Regions from separate parts of the Homo sapiens genome. Here region 1 is linked to region 2. Evidence: fine-mapped expression QTL. A gene starts in region 2. The other region holds a variant in brackets. All regions are shown on one strand. Distances are between the middles of the regions. Region 1 overlaps RCAN2 (regulator of calcineurin 2). Region 2 holds the start of RCAN2 (regulator of calcineurin 2).

Evidence for each region.
Region 1: its variant is fine-mapped to the expression of RCAN2 in whole blood (TOPMed, PIP above 0.99).

The regions. Positions count from the first base shown.
Region 1 is chr6:46,320,084-46,330,190 of GRCh38, reverse strand. All of the region lies in intron 2 of RCAN2 (regulator of calcineurin 2), which reads left to right. All of the region lies in intron 2 of LOC101926915 (a long non-coding RNA gene), which reads right to left. Among named protein-coding and RNA genes, the nearest start is that of ENPP5, 150 kb to the right of the region's middle. The variant A/G (reference allele first, on the strand shown) is at 4,310.
Region 2 is chr6:46,485,237-46,495,343 of GRCh38, reverse strand. RCAN2 (regulator of calcineurin 2) reads left to right here and starts at 3,895. Exons shown (of 5, transcript NM_001251974.2): 1 at 3,895-4,171. It overlaps RCAN2-DT (RCAN2 divergent transcript), which reads right to left and starts at 3,292. Exons shown (of 3, transcript NR_125837.1): 1 at 3,217-3,292. RefSeq lists silencers at 3,273-3,332, 3,843-3,932 and an enhancer at 7,061-7,673.

The DNA of each region.
Region 1 (10,107 bases), 170 kb after region 2:
TGACTAGCAGAGAGGAAGCAAGATTGGCCCCTTGTTAATTATTCTTGCACCTGGGTGGTGGATACATGAAGGCTCATTATTATATTCTGTCTTCTGCTGAATATATTTGAAATTCTCCATAATAAACATTTAAAAAACAGATGATCCAGAAGGCCATACAGAAGGAGCAGAGCCTTTGACAACCCATAGCTGTAATGGGAACTTCTATGCTCATTAGCCAAACAGGCTTGGCTGCTGCTACCACAGCTTCCTCTGGGATTGGAAGGTGTGCATCTCCTCCTGCTGAGATGGAGGTGAGTGTATCAGCTCAGCTGTCCATCCTTTTAGAGAATTGCCTGAACTGAAGGGAGGGCAATGGCCTCTGTCCAAGGGGTCTGTGCATAATGCATCCTTTCCTCAGTGTGATCGGTCATTGCAAGAGCAGTGGTTTGGATGAATCCCAAGGTTTTCTGGCCACTTCAGCTGGAAAGGACACTCCTGAACAGAGCTAAGCCAGGACTCAGCTCTCAGAGATGAGAGGTTATCACCGAACTCACCATGCCTTTGCAGCCCTTCTGCAAAAGCCTCCCTGCAACTCCTGGATCTAGGAGGCACCTCTATTGGTTTGAGTCTCTCTACTTGCCTTTTTAGATTCATTTGTGTATTTATCCATTCATCTTTCAGATGTTTATTAGAGTAACTCCTAAGTGTCAGGCATCCTTCTAGCCCCTGGGAATAAGCAGGGAGCAGAATAGGCAAAAATCTCTGCTTTTATGGAGATTAAATTCTAGTTGTGAGGACAAGCAGTGGACACATAAAGAAATAAATGAACAGAATAATTTCAGGTAGTGAAAAGTGCTGTGAAGAAAGTTAAAATGAAGATGCCAGGATAGTGATTGACTCTGTGTGTGTAAAAATGTGCACACAATTTTTATTTTAGCTGATTGGGGAATACTTTTCCAAAGAGATGTGATCTGAGCGGAGATCCAGATGATAAGAAGGAGCAAGCCATGAAGAGATCTGAATATTTTCAGAGAGAGGGAATAGCAAGTGCAAAGGGCCTGAGATGGGAATGAGCTTGGAAGTTTTTCCTTTGTTTCTTTCTTTTTTTTTGGAACACCAATAAGGCCAATTGGGCTGGAACAAGAGGAGTGAAGAAAGGTGAGAATGATATGAGATGAAGTGGGAGAATAATCCAAGTCTAGTGTTTACAAGGCCTTGTAGCCATTGGCCAAAGTGTATCTATATTCTAGACACCTCCAAGGCTGCAAGTCAGCCCCTAGCTATAAAAAAACACATTCTCGGCTAGGGGTGGTGGTTCAAGCCTGGAATCCCAGCACTTTGGGAGGCCAGCGTGGGCGGATCATGAGGTCAAGAGATTGAGACCCTCCTGGCCAACATGGTGAAACCCCATCTCTTCTAAAAATACAAAAATTAGCTGGGCGTGGTGGCCCGTGCCTGTAGTCCCAGCTACTAGGGAAGCTGAGGCAGGAGAATCATTTGAACCCAGGAGGTGGTGGTTGCAGTGAGCTGAGATCGTGCCACTGCACTCCAGCCTGGTGATAGAATGAGACTGTATCTCAAACAAACAAACAAACAAACAAAACTCTAGAGAAACAGGACACTGTTATAACAGGAGAGCCTCCTGGGCTCTCTAGCCAATAGGAAAATGACCATATTGTATAGACGAATGACTATTAAAAACCCAATAAGTTGGGGGTTTAAAACCCACTAATTTTAGTTCAGAGTTACTGGAAAGTTCCTTTGCCCCACAAATCATCTGCTCTTGATGCCTAGAACTCTGCCCTAAAAACACAATTTGCCCAACTTAAGACTCTGTCTCTTATTAAAATATGTATTCCTCTGGGAGGGATAATACTATGAGTTATCAGTCATTTAATGCTTATACAGATGAGTTGACAACTGTCCTTGAAAAGATATTTTAAAAGAGGAAAGCATAAAGTTAGTGGGTGCTTGGATAGCAGGAAGGAATCTGTAGGGCAGAATCAAATTAGAAAGGGAAAGCTGAGGATACATCAGAAAAAAAAAACTGCCTATTTTACAACTTCAAGTAGGGCTTTGCTTCCTGGATAATGTCCTCTGGTCAGGGCATATCACAGCAATGTTTATCTTTTATAGCTCTTTCCTAAACATAAAGTGTGAAATAATTCATACAGCCCCTTATGTAAACAGAGCAATGATTAGAATGTGTTGCTTCTACTTTGCTGTTGTTTCTTGATGGGCTCTGGGCACACGTGGACTTTGCCTCTATGGATGAACTGTCACTGATATGGCATAACGTTTTCATGAGTATGAAACAGTGATGTGCTGGAACAGCCCGTGTGAGCAGATTACATGCATGTCTTCCCAACTTTGTATTCAGTTTGACTTCACACTGACTGCTGGAAATCAGCCATGATGAGCATATTTACACCATAGAAATTGACGAATGCTAAAAATTGAAATGTTTCTTTTCAGAGAGCTGATTGTTAAACATTTACCAGTATGCTGTGAAATGTAAAAAATAAATTTTAGGATATGCCATGGCATATGAAAAAATATTCATTTCTTTGTTTTGCCTCTTGAACAGATGCCAGTGATATTCAAAATCACATTCATCTTTGTATTACTTTACATTTTAGCTACACTTGTACAGGTAGATCCCCCATTTACCTTTTCAAAAGCTGCCTGGTACTTCATGTTGGCCAGGTTTTGCATCATCTGGCTCCGGCTGCCTTGTATACTTCAGGCTCCAGCCAGATTTAACCCTGAGTGAGTTTTGCATCCAAATGCCTTATTCTTTCCTTTGGACATTTCTAGTCTGTTTTTACCTAGCTGAAGGGCACCCCTCACTTCTCTGTCTGCCAGTATCTTTCCCGTATTTCAAGGTCAGAGCAGAAATTTCCTCCCCTTCTTTGATGCTCACCTGCCATCCTAACATGGGATCCAGCATTCAGCATTCATTGCTCTTTCTCCAGTGCTCCCACTGAACACTTCCTATACCTATTCAGCCATCACCATCCCTGCCTTGTGAAATGTTGGTCTCCATGTCTTATCTCCTCCCCTGGATTTTAAGCCCATTGATGATAGTGACATTTGCTTTTTCATCATTTTATCCTTGAGAGTATCAGATGCAGAGCTTTGCATAGTCATTACTTGATATTAGTTGGATTATATGCATATATGACTTAATATTTCCCACAGTGTCCTGGACAGCGAAATAAATGCCACTTGAACAAATGCACAAAGACACACACACACAGTTTCATCAGTCTAAATATCCATATTTGTGGCCTGATTACCTTTAGCATAGAAAATGCCTTGTTGAAGGGGAACATTGGACTCAAGTGTACACCAATGAGGACAAATGAGAAAGCTTCTACTCTCAGTCTGAAATGTCACCTTTCTCATCTGCATGTAAAATTGGGAGGCTTTTGTCCAGTCATATGTTAGAAAAGTACCAATCTGTTATAAATCAGGATGTTCCAGTGGCCACTGAAGATACAACTGAACTCTTAAGGATAGATACTGCTACAATGTTAGTGAGTTCTACTGGGACTTGTATAACTAATGATAAAATAAAAAACAATTGGAAATTTTTCCTTTGGTCACTCCTGTGAAAGGAGGCTATTCCTGTTTGATTGATTTATTTATTAAACAAGTATCATCTTCTTGTGCCAGGCAATCTGTGAAAGACTGAAGATATAAAGGTAAATCATCTGTGGCCTTGCCCCTCAGGGATTTATAATCAGGAAAAAAGCCTGAGAAAGCAAAAGGATGTGTTCAAAGTCTCAGGTGAAGTCAAGCCCCGAGGATCTGACAAGCTCTGAGACACATCAGTGAGTTTGCCCGTTAGACCCTGCCATCTGTCCCCGTGTGAAATATTTGCTGTAACTCCTTTCCATGAACTGCTTTTGGTTTGAATGACCTTGGAGACAGCCTGAAATCCTGAGCTTGGAAGGGTGCTCTTAGCGTTACTGGTCTGCACTTATAGCCTTCAAATAGAATTTCCACAAACCTCTAATTATCTCCTCTTACCATGCTCCCTAAATGACAGACGACCAGCTCTTTAGTCACTCCAAGAACGGATTTCTATTCAGCCCATGCCCGGGATGCATTAGGATGCCCAGAACATGTGTGGCTGCTCTGAGTGGCACAGAGCAATTAACAGAAGCCAAGCAATTTGCAAAATGCCTCAACTTCCTGCTCATCTCGAAGGCAGAAAATTGTCAAACCTTAACCTCAGGAGGCTCATCTGCAGAATTACACCTCCCCCACCTCAAAGAAGAAACTCTGGTGTCAGATTCACCCCCTCCTGCTTTTTGCAAAC[A/G]TAAGCACTCGGCTGCAACAACAGCTATGACTCAGTTCCTAGCTAACGCTGCTTGAATTGATTTAGTCTGAGTTCAGATTTAGCACATAATCATGTTCAATTTGCTCCACTGCACTGCCTAGAGATAAAAGGCTTGGAGAAAAAAAAATAGCTTCAGCTTGTGTCAGTCTTTGTGGTGATGTCATTGCCATGAGCGAGCCGGGCCGTTCGTTACTCTGCTGTGCTGCCTCAGACGCGGAGGGCTGCGTGCAGTGGGAGCGGGCTCCAGGAGCCCGAGCCTCCAGCCGTCCCCAGAGCAAGGCAGCACCGAGGCCTGGCCACAGCAATATCCATCTGGAAGCTCTTCCCTTCACTCCCAACTCTGAGGTTGCCTAACTCTTTATTAAAAATTCAGAAGGGGGAATGCCAGCCCCTAGCATGGACTGTGATGTTTCCACTCTGGTTGCCTGTGTGGTGGATGTCGAGGTCTTTACCAATCAGGAGGTTAAGGTATGCACCTGCAATCTTATTTTTCATTGTTGCTGTTACTGACGCTGCTTGGCAGAGCCTTTTTAGCATGAAGAAATAAGACTTTGGTTAATAGTTTTCAGCTCATAGTCTGCGCTAGAAATGCATGTAGTGAGTGCATGGCTGCATTAAGTAGAATAAGTTGGAAGAGGGACCAGCATATTATTTTTAAATATGACAAGGTCTGCCATTGTTTCTTCTTGTCTTTTTTATTAGGTAATCCCTGGTCAGTCCTTTCTGAGTAGACACATTTTCATATTCTCATATTGTATCTTTGTCAATAAGGAGAATTTTCCAGCCCTCAATGTCAAGAGGGATTTTGAATCAATGATTACATGAAGAAAGCACACATAATAAACCCAGCATCCAGGCCAGCCTGACAGTGGGGCAATAACCCTTTCTGGCATGTCACTTAAATATCCTGTGATGTGGTCTTCAAATTAAACAATAGCTGTTCTACAGATGGCAGTTTCAGTCCCCAGCTTTCTGGAAATCAAAGTTGGAGAACAGCTGCCTAAATTTTCTTTGTCAGGCAAAGAAAGCAAGTCATTTTCCTTGAGCAGTTGTTCATAAAGTTTAGGCATAAATATTTCGCATCTTAAGGCTTAGTATTATACATGCTGGTCCTCACTGATTGCCGGCAGCAGTTGTTGACTTGTCATAGGTAATCGTCCTCTGATGATATTCATTCCCTTTTATTTTCCATTTGGCTTTATATTATGGAGAAGATGCCAGGCTTGCAAAATGGAAATGTTTATTTTTTCTCTCATATTTAATAGAAGAACTAGCTGAAGCTTCTTATTTAAACAGTTCACTCACACATATACACGCACAGAAGGTCAGTTGTTCATTGTGTGGTGGGAGGAATAAAAGGTGAATTACATTGCATAATCATTTACCATCCTTGCTTTAGTCTTAACTTAAGGAAAAACCCTGAATTCTTTATTGTTGGGTGTGCAGGTGACACCCTGGTGCTTTACAGGTGGGGATTTATGTGTTCTTGGCATAGCACATGGCTATGTCATTCAAGATTGCAGCTTTAACAATCTTTTGAAATAGATTTGATAATCTGGCATTTTGTTCCTGAATATTTTAAACATGTAGCCCTGTATTTACTAATTTTTGTGTCAGTGCCATGGAAATGTCTACCACCTGTCATATGAAGGTTCAGAAAATAAGGACATAAAGGTTTGGCACTGTCTGTGATTGCATTGAGAATGGAAACATGCATGCAGAGACCCACAGTCCTGCCAGTCGTACTTCCATAGCACTTGAGAAGGGAGAGCAGTCATTTAAAGCCAGCGTCAAGTCCAGTGTGGGTAACCAGGTAGAGAGACATCTTCCAGTAACCACTGGAACATAATTCCATCTATGGAGAATAAAACTTCACAGCTCCCTTCTGTCCTCAACAGTTATCTGTTGTTTACACACTTGCCCTGAGAATGTCATAAAATATTCTAAACTTTATTCGTTTCAGAAAAGATAATGAGAAAATATTTATTGGAGATCTGCAACATGCCAGGCATTGTGCTTATATAGGAAAAAGTTTAAAATATGCTTATATGGCATATGTATCTATGATATAGCTATAAAAATAACCAACTGCCGAAGGTTTCTTTAAAGACAAAGAATATTTTGTGGAATTAAGAGGATACAAAGTTGTTACAGCTGGTTGTATGTGAGTGGTTGGGGTGGTTTTATGGAAAAATGATACTTAAAGATGGGTAGATTTTATACAGAAAGAGAGAAGGCACAGCATTTTGCAGTCTAGTGAGTCAATTCTTTTGACTGCAGTAGGTTCTCTATGAGAGATTAGAGGCAAACGGGAAAGGAGGTGAGTCAGGGCTAGATGGTGAACAGCTGATGCTGTTCTTCATAAATTTATGAGGTTTTTCGAGGAAGACTGTTACCAGAAATATGTGCTACATGTATTTACTGCCAATAGCTCTGAATCATCATGGGCTTTTTTCTTTTCTTTTTTTTTTTTTTAGAAAGGTTACCTAATCTTTCTGGGCCTTAGTCTTCTCATATAATGTGAGAATAGTAGTAATTTCTACCTTATTAGCTTAGAGACAAGAGAATTTTACATGTAGAATAATTAACACAGTGCCTGACTCCTATTTAATGCTCAATAAATGTTAGCTATCACCATCGTCATCATTGTCATCTTTGTAGGCACTCTCTGAAAGTGATAGGTAACTTTTACCAGTTTATCAGAATGTCCTAAATCCAGCTGAGTTTACAATGACAGTCTAGCACACAGAAAATGTTTTCCCTCCCACCCCACTCCCAATACACACAAACACTCTAGCCACTTAGAAAACATGGCTTTCCATTTTTGATATTTAATCATCTAATGTAAAGCAGTAACATTATTAAAAAGCAAAGATCTACGTTGTGCTTATTAAAAAGGGGGAAAATGAACAAATTAAGGTGGGCCAAATGTTATGTGTTAAGAAAACCTGCGCTCCTTGTTCAAAACTGACCATTACTCTTATCACGAAGAAAGGTTCAAACGTAAAATTCTAGGCACCAAACAAAGCTTCCCCAAAGGTATCTGTCTTCTTCATTCATTACTAATAACTGGTGGAGCCAAGAGTTCCTTCTTCAAAATCTTTAAGGTTTATTGTCAGAGAAAAGGGAGGCACATGGAAAGGGTCTGTCTCACCTGCTTACATCCATCTTGCTTAATCTCAGTCTTGTTTGTTTAATAGGCATCCCCACTTTCTACATGTAGCCCCCATGGGCAAGCAGCCATACTAGGGGGATGCAACCAGCAGGCCTCCTTCATAAGTATGGGAGTTTATTTGAAATGGGTAGAAGCATCCACAAATCTAGTTTCCCATAGTGACACAGAAAGCCTCATCCTCCAGTGTGGCTCTCAGCTGATTGTATTAGGGGCCCTTCTGACTCCAGTTTCCTAAATTTCATCAAAGCTGCTCAAGCAATAATACTAAAAAGAGGAGGAAATCAGACAAATGGAATTCTGCCATATTTGGCTTTCTCTGGAAATTCCATTGGTGGTGTTGTGAACTTAGCCGTCTGTTCTGCAATGTGAGAGTTCTCAGAAAGATCTAGAAGTTGAGAGCCCTCAATAGAAAATGCTATAGGGGAACTGCAGAATTTCTGTGTGTGTGAATGTGCAGGGTTGATGTTCTCCAGTATTCTCATATTTCTGAAAATAGTCTACCCACTCCACAAAGAGCCAAACCCTTGGGAAAATGAAAGAGATCCAAGAGATTGGTAACGAAATTTACATTTCACTTTAGTCCAGTGGTTCTTAAACCTGATTGCACATCGGTGTCCCCTGGAGATCTTTTAAAAATATTAATGTGCCCAGGCCCCACCCCCAGAACTTTTACCTGGCTGGTCTGAATGGAGCCCAGGCATAGGTAATCATATAAAGCCAGTGTCTTGTCTCTTTCAGGCACAAGTAGGTACAGGTGAGGTCAGCCAAGAATTGTCTAGAGTAAGCTCTGCTTAAGCACTTGGATCCTTATCTCCCCAGCTAAGACTTGATGTATGCAGTTTTAAAAACGGTATCTCTGAGCTGTCAGAAATGTTGACGCTCACCCAACACTTCAGTTCTCCACACCTGCAGTTCCTTCACCTGATTCTGAGCCAACAGCAAATGCTCTTCTTTACTGCTGGCCACTGTGGGGGGCCTTCTCAGAGCTGCAGAGTGCCACCACTCTGCCAGGGGGCATCCAAACCTGGGGCTGCCCCTTCTCTGCAATGGTGGCTTCCTGCACAGAAGAAAGGGTGGGTTCCTTCTCTCTAGATTGGAGGGCTTCTGATTCATGTACCAGGTTTCCAGCCTTGTCTCCATGGGCATCCATGTAGGACACAAGGAATTCACAAAGCTCCCTTCCGCTCATTAGAGCAGGCAGGAAACATGACAAATCTTATAAGAAATACAGAAGCTTCAAAGACCCTTGGCACTTGAGAGATTTGTTCATTCATTCAAAAACATGTGTGGAGCATTTATTACCTACCAGGCAATGCTCTAGGCCTAGGAGTTCGATAAACGTCCCTGCCCTCACGGAGCATATATTCTAACATGAGATGCAGACAATGAAATAGTAAACAAGTAAATATACATGGTAATTTCAGCTAGTGATGAGGGCTATGAACAAAAATGAAGCAGAGTGAGAGATAGAGCATTGATGGGGGAGGAATGGCCACTTTTGAAAAGATTGCCATTGGAAACATCTCTGGGGAAGTGACAGTTTATTAAATGTCATTGTTTCAATGTCATTCAGAGATCTAAAGAAATTTAGAGAGCCATGTACAGAGCTGAGAGAAAATCATTCCACATAGAGTGAATAGTAGGTAGAAAGAGAGGCCATCTTAGCCATCTTATCTGATGTGCTCCTACCTAGTCCCCCCACCAGCACTATTTAACCTGTTTCAATCATTCATTCATTTAGGTACCCATTGAGACGGTCACTGTCTCAAGCTATAATTTATTTTTTTAAGGAGACTCTTTTTCAGAAAACTGTACTTAACCTAATTCCCTCATGCTACGTTTTAAGCCCAATAGCTCTCTTAGGGTAAGGGTAAATACAAGTAGAAGTGTGTTTTCAGCACAGTAATTCTTCATATGCTTGGAATCTTAGGATTGCTACAGGACAGCTCTTTTCTCTTCTGAAAGGCCAAGGCCTTTTTAAGGTCACTCATAAATCCTACTTTCTCTCCTCTGCTTTTGAGAATTTCTCAACATCCTCCCAATCCATGTGACCTGGGACAATCTCTTAGCCTTTCTGGATGCAAAATAATCATGCTGAGAAAAATCCCCTACTGCTCTGTGCATTTTATTTTTCTTTTTACACGATAGTATACCTGACTGAGTCAGAGTCTATTTGTTTTATGCTGTTGTGTGAGTTATGAAAAAGACCAGCACATCATGGCCACTGAGTACAATGAAATCTCTCTGTCATACAAACCACTGGACATTTCAAATCACTTGTTTTGTATGGTGAGAGTGATAGGAGGAGAAGGATGAGGCTGAGTTGGTATGATGCACTTTGTACTCTGCTTTGAGGAGAAACAAGTGACACAATTTAGTATGTGTCACTTGTTCAGGAATTGTTTTGGAAGAGAAACTTAGGTGGGTGTTGGTCAAGAAAGCTGGTTGAACTTCATGCCCATTTCTTAAGTTTTTTGCGAGCACTAGGGTAAGGATCTGGGCACAACCAATCATGACCTATGGCTCTGCAGAGCTCTAAAGCTCTTTAAGAATTTTCAAAAACCATTGTGTTCACTCAGTAACTTAGAAGTGTTTGAGTTGT
Region 2 (10,107 bases):
CTATAAAAAATTGATAAGCTGGACTTTATTAAAAATAAAAACAGGTGGGGCACAGTGGCTCACGCCTGTAATCCCAGCACTTTGGGAGGCTGAGGCGGGTGAACCACGAGGTCAGGAGTTCAAGACCAGCCTTGCCAATATGGTGGAACATTGTCTCTACTAAAAATACAAAAATTAGCCAGGCGCAGTGGTGCGTGCCTGTAGTCCCAGCTACTTGGGAGGCTGAGGCAGAAGAATTGCTTGAACCCAGAAGGCGGAGGTTGCAGTGAGCCAAGATCATGCCACTGCACTCCAGCCTGGGTGACAAAGCGAGATTCCACCTCAAAAAAATAATAAGTAAATAACTAAAAACTGCTCTGCGAAAGACACTGTCAAGAGAATGAGAAGACAAGTACCAGGTAGGAGAAAATATTTATAAAAGACATATCTAATAAAGAACTCTTATTCAAAATACAAAAATAACTCTTACCAATAGAAAACAAGAAAAGCAACATAAGAAAATAATCTGATTAAAAAATGGGCAAAAGATCTGAACTGACGCCTCACCAAAGAAGATGGCAAATAAGGCACCGCAAATGGCTTTAAGCATATAAGTTTGACAAATGGCAAATAAGCATATAAAAATTCTCAACATCATGTCAATAGGCAGCTACAAATCAAAATAATGAGATGCCAATTAGAATGGTGGAAATCCCAAACACTGTCAACACCAAATGCTGGTGAGGATGTGGAGTAACAGGAAGTCTCATTCATTGCTGGTGGCAATGCAAAATGGTATAGCCCCTTCAGCAGAGTTTGTCAGTTTCTTACAAAATTAAACCTACTATATGATCTATCAATCACACTCTTTGATATTTACCCAAACAAGTTGAAAGCTTACATTCACACAAAAACTTGCACATGAATACTTAGAGCAACTTTTTACTTATTGTCAAAACTTGGAAGCAATCAAGTTGTCCTCCAACAGGTGAATGAACAAATAAACTGTGGTATATCCAGACAATGAAATATTATTCAGTGCTAAAAAGAAATGAGTTATTTGAGCCATGAAAAGACAGGGAAACTTACATCCATATTAAGTGAAAGAAGCCAATCTGAAATGACATTCACTTATATGACATTCTGGAAAAGGCAAAACTATGGGGACAATTAGAAATTCAGTGGTTGCCAGAGCTTAGTGGGGAGGATAGAATGAATAGGCAGAGCACAGAGGAGTTTTAAGGCAGTGAAGCTATTCTGTGTGAAACTATAATGGTGGATATAGGTCATTATACACTTGTCTAAACTCAAAAAAGTACACCACCAAGAGTGGATCTGTAAACTACGGACTTTGGTTGATAATGTTGTGTTCATGTAGCTTTATTCATTGTATTACTCCTGTGTCAGACTTTGATAGTCAGGGAGACTATGCATATGTGGGGGCAGGCAGTATATGGGAGTTTTCTGTTCTTTCTGCTCAACTTTCCTGTGAACCTAAAAGTTTATATTTATAATGTCACATACAACCATTGAGAGGCAGTCTAGTCTAGTGGGGACTCCAAAGCCAGGTTGTCTAGGTGTGAATTCAGCTTTCCACTTGTTAGCTTCAGCAAGTCATTTATTTAATCTTTCTGTGCTTTCTTTACTATAGGTTAATTATAGTACCTATCTAATAGAGTTGCCATGAAAGTGAAATGAATTAATGTATAAAAATTCATTGGCTTGGAGCGTGGCATATACTAAATGCTCAATAAATGTTAGCAAACCAAAATTCTGATCTTATTTACCACCATCCTTAACATTAGCTACCCTTTAGCCTCACTCCTGCTCTCCAAAATCCTCTTCAAGCTCAGACCCCATCCCATAAACTCTTTTTCTCTCTGTATTTTCTTCTTGCCATTAACATTTGTTTTGCTAGTAACATTTTGTTCTTCTCAAGGTAAACAACATGAGGCTGTTTGTCACTTTTCATTTTTTTCCTCATTTATTATGCTTCCTTCTTCACACAAACTGACAAACACAGAATTTCTCTTAGCAGTAGAAGGAGGAATATGTGGCTATGAGAACTCAGAAACAGCATCTAGAAAAGTAACAATATCTATATTTGGTGTTAGGAAAATGGCTATGTTGATTTTGGTAACAGCTAACATATATTGAGTATCACTGTGTGCCAGGCACTGTGCTTAGGTGTTTTACATGTATTACCTCATTTAGTTCTCAGATTAAATCCTGTGTTTTTCCAACTTTTCAAAATTTCTGCAATGAATATATTGCTTCTATAAGCTGAAAATTTTATTTGTAAATGTATATTCACAAAATAATAAATAGTCCCTGTTAAGATGAAAGTCATCAGTTTGACGAAGATTCTAGGAAGTACTCACTAATAATAAGTGAGATTTTGTTTAAAGGGTTGGGGATGCTTTACTTGGAAAGAAAGGGGATCCTGGAGTGCATTAGACATGCTAGCTATTTTTACATATTTTAAAGATAGTTAGAAGAGGAATTTGACTTGGTTTCTTTGGCTTCAAAAAGTAAGGGAGAACTAATGATTAAAGGGAGGCAAGTTTTTGCTCAACTTAAGAATGCCCTTTCAGACAATTCTAACCCAAATGGCAATTATCTAAATCAACGACTAATTACAGATTTATGCATCCAGGGGAAGGCTGAACGAGGGGAAGCCTAAGGTCATTTTCAATTCTGAAATTGTGTTTATGTTAATGCAGATTAATCAGAGAGAAGAGCCAACGTCTCGTCTACCTTTTTTTGTTGAAAACAAACAAAACGTGATTGTATGTCAACTTTGGAAAAAAACAACGTAGTGTGGGTAAGTGAAGAATGATTGTGAATGGACTGCTTCAGTGCAATCGTAATATTGTTATCAGAAAATCAAAAGGCATAAAAAGCAAAAAGAAAACGGCTTATTTATGCAGCAATTCGAAAGATGACAGAACACAAACCTGATTTAAATGTTATTCACTCCCTCCCTCAGATTGGTCTGCACACCTCCTTCCTTTAATTTCCCGCACTCTCCTATGATCTTTTGCATAATTCACATTCTCTTGCCATGAGACTCAGTCCTGTTCCTATCTGTGCCACCCGTAAGCCACAGGCTTCCTTACCCATTTGAGTTGCTTTATTCCGTAAAGCAGAGACTTCTACTGGGGTTAACTTTGTTGAGCAACAGATCTACCCTAGATTGCGATTCACCTTCAGTCCCGTTTGCTGTAGGATACCAACCTCCCACTCACTGTGTCATGGCTCTCACACAATAGGATTCCTTGCAGCCCGAACCCTTCTGTCCTCAGGTCTGATGGCTGCAAATCCTGGCAAAGCTGTGAAGCCCGCGCAGGGCACCCTCAGCGGCCTGGGCTGGGCCGGGCGCAGGGCTCCAGCCAGAGGGCGCCAGCGCCCACCAAGCGCAGAAGCCCGGGAGGACCATCCAGGGGCTCCCCGACATTTCCTCAGTTAGCCAGAGTCGGGGGGCTCAGACATCTGGTAAGAAGAGTCTTTCTCCCAGTACTCCCCCACCACAGTTTGCTTCTCTGACCATTTCTTCTGGGCTGTCGCTGCCCCCTCACCCTCAGCTTAGTATGGGACCCCGAGGAGCCTCTTCCCGCTGAGGCCGGGACTCCTGCAGCCAGGCTCCCACGCCAGGTGCCCGGAGGCTCCTGCGCCCTCCCGGGCACCTGAAGTGGAAAGGAGGGGGTGCGGGGCTGAGGGCAGGGTGAGAGCCCCGGAGGTGCGGTGGGTAGGGGACTGGGGAGGGCGCCGGGTCAGGAGGGAGGAGATGAGAAGAGGCCAGACAGGGGCTTTCGGTTTCCCTGGGTCTGATTGGAGGTTGGCCCGATGAGTCGGAGCTGGGGACGCGCCCATCTCCGCCGGCTCCTGCGAGAGCCGCCGGCTCAGCCCCTCCCTGGAGCCGCTTTGTCCCGGGTGACGGCGGCGGAGGTTGCGGGGAGGAGCGGGCAGCAGGCAGAATCCCACTGACCCACGGCGGCAGAGAGAGGGAGGCGGGGCGCGCCGCGCCGCGTACGGCCCCACGCAAAGGCCCGCGGGCACCGCGCCGCCCCCACGCGCTCGCACCGGCGGGCAGGTGAGCAGGCAGCGCCGCGCGCTAGCAGCTGGCCCCCGTAGACGCCCCAGCCGCCGCCTCCGCCTCCGCCTCCGCCGGCGCATCGCGGACGCCCAGCAGGTCGGTTATGTAACCGCGCCGGCCAGGCTCGCCCAGGCACCCCGTCCCGCCGGGGCTGACAGCAGCCCCGGGGTCGTGCCGGGGGTCCGCGGCGGGGATCTGGTCTCCGGGCCGGGTCTGGGTGCAGGGCGGGGGCGGGGGCGGGGGCGGGGGCGGTGGCGGGGGTGGGGGCAGTGGCGGGGGTGGGGTTTGTCTCCAGATCTGTGGTCAGTCCCGGCTGCGGCCGTGGGGACGGAGATCTCCCGCGACCCCCCTCTAGGGGGCGCGGGTCCAAAGGAGCCCCTTCCCCACTGCCCGTGGCCCGGGGGTTTGCCTTCCTGGAAGCAGCAGCAGGTGCATAAGTGAAGGAGCGAGGATGACGCCTGTGATCCCCGGGACTGAGGCTTAGAGAGGGTCTAGAAGAGACTAACTGGATGCAGAGAGCAAAGAAGATCGAGAGATCCCTTCTTCCCAATGCAGAGGCTGGGGAGGGGGTAGGTGCACTGAGGTGCAGCGGGCTGAGAATTGTCCTGCTTGGGATTAGCGGCCTTGGGTCATCTAAAAATAACTTCAAGTTTGAAAAGTGAAATGGAGCGGAGCGCAGTGTGCCGGGTTCGTCCTGCCTGTGGGATGCTTCGCTCCAGAAGTCACCAGAGGGAACAGGCAAATCCCAGCCGCCTGATCCCTCGGCCGCCTCCAGGTCTCGCTGGTTTCCAGGGTGCCTCGGTTTGCCTTTTAGTTAATGATTTATTCTTCGAGGTACTTCTGCCTATTTCTTATCCCAAAATGAATTATAGCAGAATGCATGCTTTGAATCTTTCCTGTTTCTTACAATGGGATAGAGGTGTTCAACTGCCAAATGAAGTTTTTTTAAGTCTCAGTTTAGTAAAAACAAAAGTTTCTGGGGTTCCTTTAATATGCATTCCCACAGTTTTCCACAATTGGAGATGAAGGGATGTCACAGCATTCCAGCTCACACTTCTCTCTCCCTTCAGCCAGAATTTCACTCAACTTATCATGCAGAGGGGAGGCTTTAGGAAATGTAGGACAACTTTAACAGTGCAACTCAAGTTTCACACCTTTGTTATCCTTTATTACATCACTTCAAAACGAAGAACAAATGTACCACAAGGTACCACGCAACACTTGCTAACCGGCCTCTGCATTCTGGGGGCACAGTGAAGTTGGAAATACCCAAAAGCTGGAAAGGATCAAGAGGCAGGTCAGCATTGACTGTCAACTAGGCAGGAGAGTGAGCATTTGGCTGCTTTTCAGTGTAGTCATTGATTTTCTTTAGCCTTAGAGCTATTATATTAAGTATGATCAGCCATTGAGTTCAATTAGTCTAAAATGTGAGTTGCACTTTGCATTCAAATCCACTGCAAATCAAATCAGCATTTACTGAGCATCTACTACCTGAGTCCAGTCCATAGAATTTTGTGAGGGAAAAGTGTTCTCATCTAAAGCTACATGATTCTGAGAGCTCTCAAAATGCTTAGTGTGTGCAGGTCCTCCAGAACTCACCTAAATTTGGGAGGGCATGACTCTTTCTCCAGTGATGAACGTGTAACAGACAGAAGTGGGAACTCGAGAGCTTTCTCATTTGTAAGTGCACATCACGGTGTTAAAAACCACTTGTGTAATCATTTGCAGACAGTCATACATATCACAAATTCTTTTTATTGAGACTAACATTGACAATCACCGAGGTCTCATTTTCCTATTTTACGTTCTGTAGCATCCACTCGATCAATTCAATAATTATTTGTTGAGCACCTCCTGTGTGCTTTGTAGGTCCTGTGCCAGAGGCTAAAAGAATGAGGCCCATGCCTCCCAGAAATCAATTTAGCAGAAAAGGAGAAGAAAATAAATGGTAATGATTCAACATCATGAGTGTTTAATGAAGACAGAAACAAGTTTAATGGGAGCCAACAGAAGAAAGAGTGGAGGGAATCTGGAAGAGTTTAAAGAAGAGTTTACATTTGGTCTGGATCCCAATAGGTGGTAGGAGTTGTCTAGAGAAGGGGCTGGGTATTCCACACTGAAGGAACAGCATACACACATGGCAGAAAGGTCACATTCAGAGGACACCTACATGTTCTGAGGGAAGACAGGAATGTTTAGAAAGGTTTCACTGAAGCTGGATTGTGAATATACCCTGCTAAGGAGGAGAAACCATGTGGCCCTTAATGGTAGGAATGATTTCATCTAACTTACATTTTGCAAAAGTGACTGTGGAGGTGTGAGGAGGTGGGGTTGCAAAAAGGAATGAGGAGACTTTAGACCATTGGAGTGGCACAGACCAAAACAAAACAAAAACCAGAAAACTTATGAAATGTGCCTGAACCAGATGGCCTGGAGGAAAGAGAAGAGATCTATACAGAGCCATTTCAGGGGGAGGATCGGTAGCATTGGTCACCAAGTGGATGGTGGTATGGAAGGAGAAGCTTAGATGTCTAGAGGATGGTCAGGCTTTTAACTGAGGGAGTAAATAAGAGGAGACTTGAGAAAGATGGAGAATTTTTATTTTGAACAACCAAATGAAAATGTTCAGTAGGCACTTTTATTTTCAAATGTAATTTCTTCATTTCTGGTGCTAACCTTCTACTGATCTTACTTCTCTTCATTTCTGAGACTGTGTAAGGTTGCTTTTAGAGAAGAAGGAGAGACAAACTTAATAGCAGGAAGTTGTTTCTACCTTTATCCCCAAAAGTGGTAGTATGAACTCAGTTATTTGAACTACTACTAGTGGTAACAGTGATAATAATGATAATGATAATATCTAACATTTATTCAGTGCTTACTACATACTGAACACAAGGAAGTTAGAACTGTACCTGGTTTATCACATCTGATCTTCCCACTAACCTTATGAGGCAGGCACTGTTGTTATTCTCAGATGACTGACAAGAAAACCAAGGCAAAGAGAGGATATCTTGCGTGGGTCACACAGTTTGTAAGACGTGCACCTAGAATTGAAGCCCAGGCTCTGACCAGCATTCTGAATTACCAATGTGAATTAATAGCATTAAAATAATTCTTTTTTATCCTGGAATGTGTTTTTTGCCCTAGGTTTGGATATTTTTGGCTGATGCCACAAAAGAGAACTGGACTGAGTCAGGAGTCCTGGCTTTTGACTGGGCTCTACACCTGATTTGCTGTGTGATGTTTGCAAAGTCACATCCCATCTCAGGCTTTTGTTATTTTAAATCTGTATATTCATGGAACAAGAGGTCGGTTAGATGCTCTCTAGGGAGTGTGACATTCTGAAGTCTTGCTGTTTGCTTTCTCAAATTCTCTGCTACTAGAACCATTGGTTTGGGTTAAGGTCGTACCTGTCTGGTCACTTAGAGGATAGAAATACTTCAAAGAGGATTAACACAAATGGTGGCTTCTCCTTAATAGTTTGGTGTGAACTGATCCATTTTACAGAGCTAATGGGAGTGCCTGAGGTTGGGGAAGCATGGTCCTGGAAGGGGAACCCTGCCTGCCTGGGCACTAAAGTAGAGGAATCTCCATGGTCACTTACCAGTTTCTTTTCTTTAGACATGTTGCTTTAACTCTATGAGAGTTTCCTCATGTCTGAGAAACTGGGGCAATTAATGCACATATTGTGAGATTATTGTGAGGATTGAAGCAGTACTATAAACCAGGCACCACATACAAGTCCGTCTCAGTGAAGGTGCTCAGGAAATGGAGGTCCCACCCTTTGCCGCCAGGGTAAACGACATGTAGAAAGGGAAAGGTAGAGTGTTTCTGAAGACAAAGTTTCCTACTTCATAGCTTTGATAGGGGCCACCTCTTAGTTGAGTATCATCTATTTATCTAAGAAAGAAGTGTATGTTGGTAGTATAAAAACACACAGCACATTAAATAACTTCCAAAATGTGCATCTCTGAAGTATTCATTAATAGGTTACCTTCTTAGAGATAAAGAAGCGTCAACATTCCACAACACAGAGTTTTCAATTCTTCTTTTGCCAGCTTATAAGGAGGCCAATGTTGCTGTAAATAAAGAAATAGTATTGCCAAGGTTGGTCATACTGGATTCTATTATTATGGCATAGAATAGAGAGGGGACAGAATGATTTTCTGTTCTGTGTGTGTCTGTGCACAGATATGTGCTTTGTCTTCCTGAAGAATTTTCTGCCTCTGCCTGTAAAGTGTTCACTGTTCTTGTGTCTTTTCACTTGTTACCAACTCTAGGTGTCATATATTGTAAGTTAAATTAATTAGTTGAGGAATATTTTTAAAGATGGAAGCAGCTTTAAACTCAATGGAAACTTCAAAAATCCCTTAAAAATGATAAAGTGAGTGACCATGAATGGTACTTTCCAGAAGTTAAAGAAATGCTTCCAAATACAATTCAAACTCCCTGCAGTTCAGAATGCCCACAGAAAATATTTTTTATAGTATGGATGGAAACAGCCTTATTTTCATATCTGATCTTCTATATTCAACTTACTGCAAGACAAGGGATAAAATTTTGGAATCCTAAGCTTTGGAATGTATGCATAAAAAGACATTGTAATGGTAGCTATTGGACCAAAAAAATGTATTATTTTAGAACACGGTCCTAGATTTTATCACTGTTTCTTAGTTCTTTGTGGGAATAATTGCTTTATTATATCATGTAACTGAGATTTGCCTGTTCCAAAATATTATAATTTCTCTGAAGACTCGGGCCATGCCTTAGTACTTCTCATACAGTGTTGGGAATGAAGTATAAAGAACATGGACTTGGCATGAAAAAGCCTGGATCTCAATCCTGGTGCTGTCATTTCCCTGCTATGTGACCTTGAGCTTCCCATTGACCTAACAGTCATAGGAACTGGCATTTGTTGAATGCTGCCCCTGTTCCAGATGCTTTGCTCAGCATGCTACATACGTTATCTCATTTAATCCTTACAACAACTCCACAAGGTGGGTATTATCATCACTATTTACAGAAAAGCACACCCTGAGGATCAGGGGGAATAAGCCACTCAGTGCCGGTTCTCTGAGTTGCAGTTTTCTTATCTGTACAATTAGGAAAATAATACCTTATCTCCCCACTTTACAAAGGTGTGAGGGTGATGTACTATGAGTTTGTGAATGTGCACAGAAAAATGGAATGCTCTGCACAGATGTTGAGGATGATTGTCACAATAGGGACCTACTAATAACAAGAAATCAATTATAGGTGGGCCTGGTATAGTACCATGGCTGTGAGAAGAAAGATGTCCAATGCATATAAAATACATTTATATAATGCATTAAGAATGTTGTATTTCCTTGCCCTGTTCTTTGGTACAAATAGCTTGTTTTTTGGGGGGGTAACTTATTTGTTGTCAGTACCAATGTGGGTCAGGTCAGGCCAGAGCTGATCAGGACATGGAACTGGGTCCAGCTGGTGAAGGGGGAAGGAGACTGTGGTTTGAAGAGAAGAGGTACTGCCAGAGGGGTGTTTTAGTATAAACAGAGAAGGGTGAAAGTCAAAGCCAAGGTTGAGGAAAGGATAGGCATGATGTGGAGTGCAAGAAGGAGTCATCATCAGGGTTTACATCAAGCGTGAGTGACAGGCAGAACATGGAGTCTGCTCATGAAGGCTAGAAATATTTTCCACTGTCTGCTGAGGCATGTCCACTCAGCAGGAAAACAGGGACCCTCTGCCCTGAAGTTTTAATGTTTTGTTTTTTTTCTTGGACATATGTGCTTTCTAGAAAAACTTTGGAAAACACAGGAAAGTATAAAAAGAGAGAATTAAAATAACACATATTACCATGAGCAATTGACAATTACTATAAACATATTGATGTACTTTTCACTTTTTATATGCATATTTTTATAGAAATGGAATTATAACTGTGTACAGAATTTTGCATTCTGTGCATTTCACTGAAAATTTAAAATAACTTTCATATGAAGCCAATAATCTTTTTGAATATTTTTCTCATTAGCTGCATAGCATTTCCACGC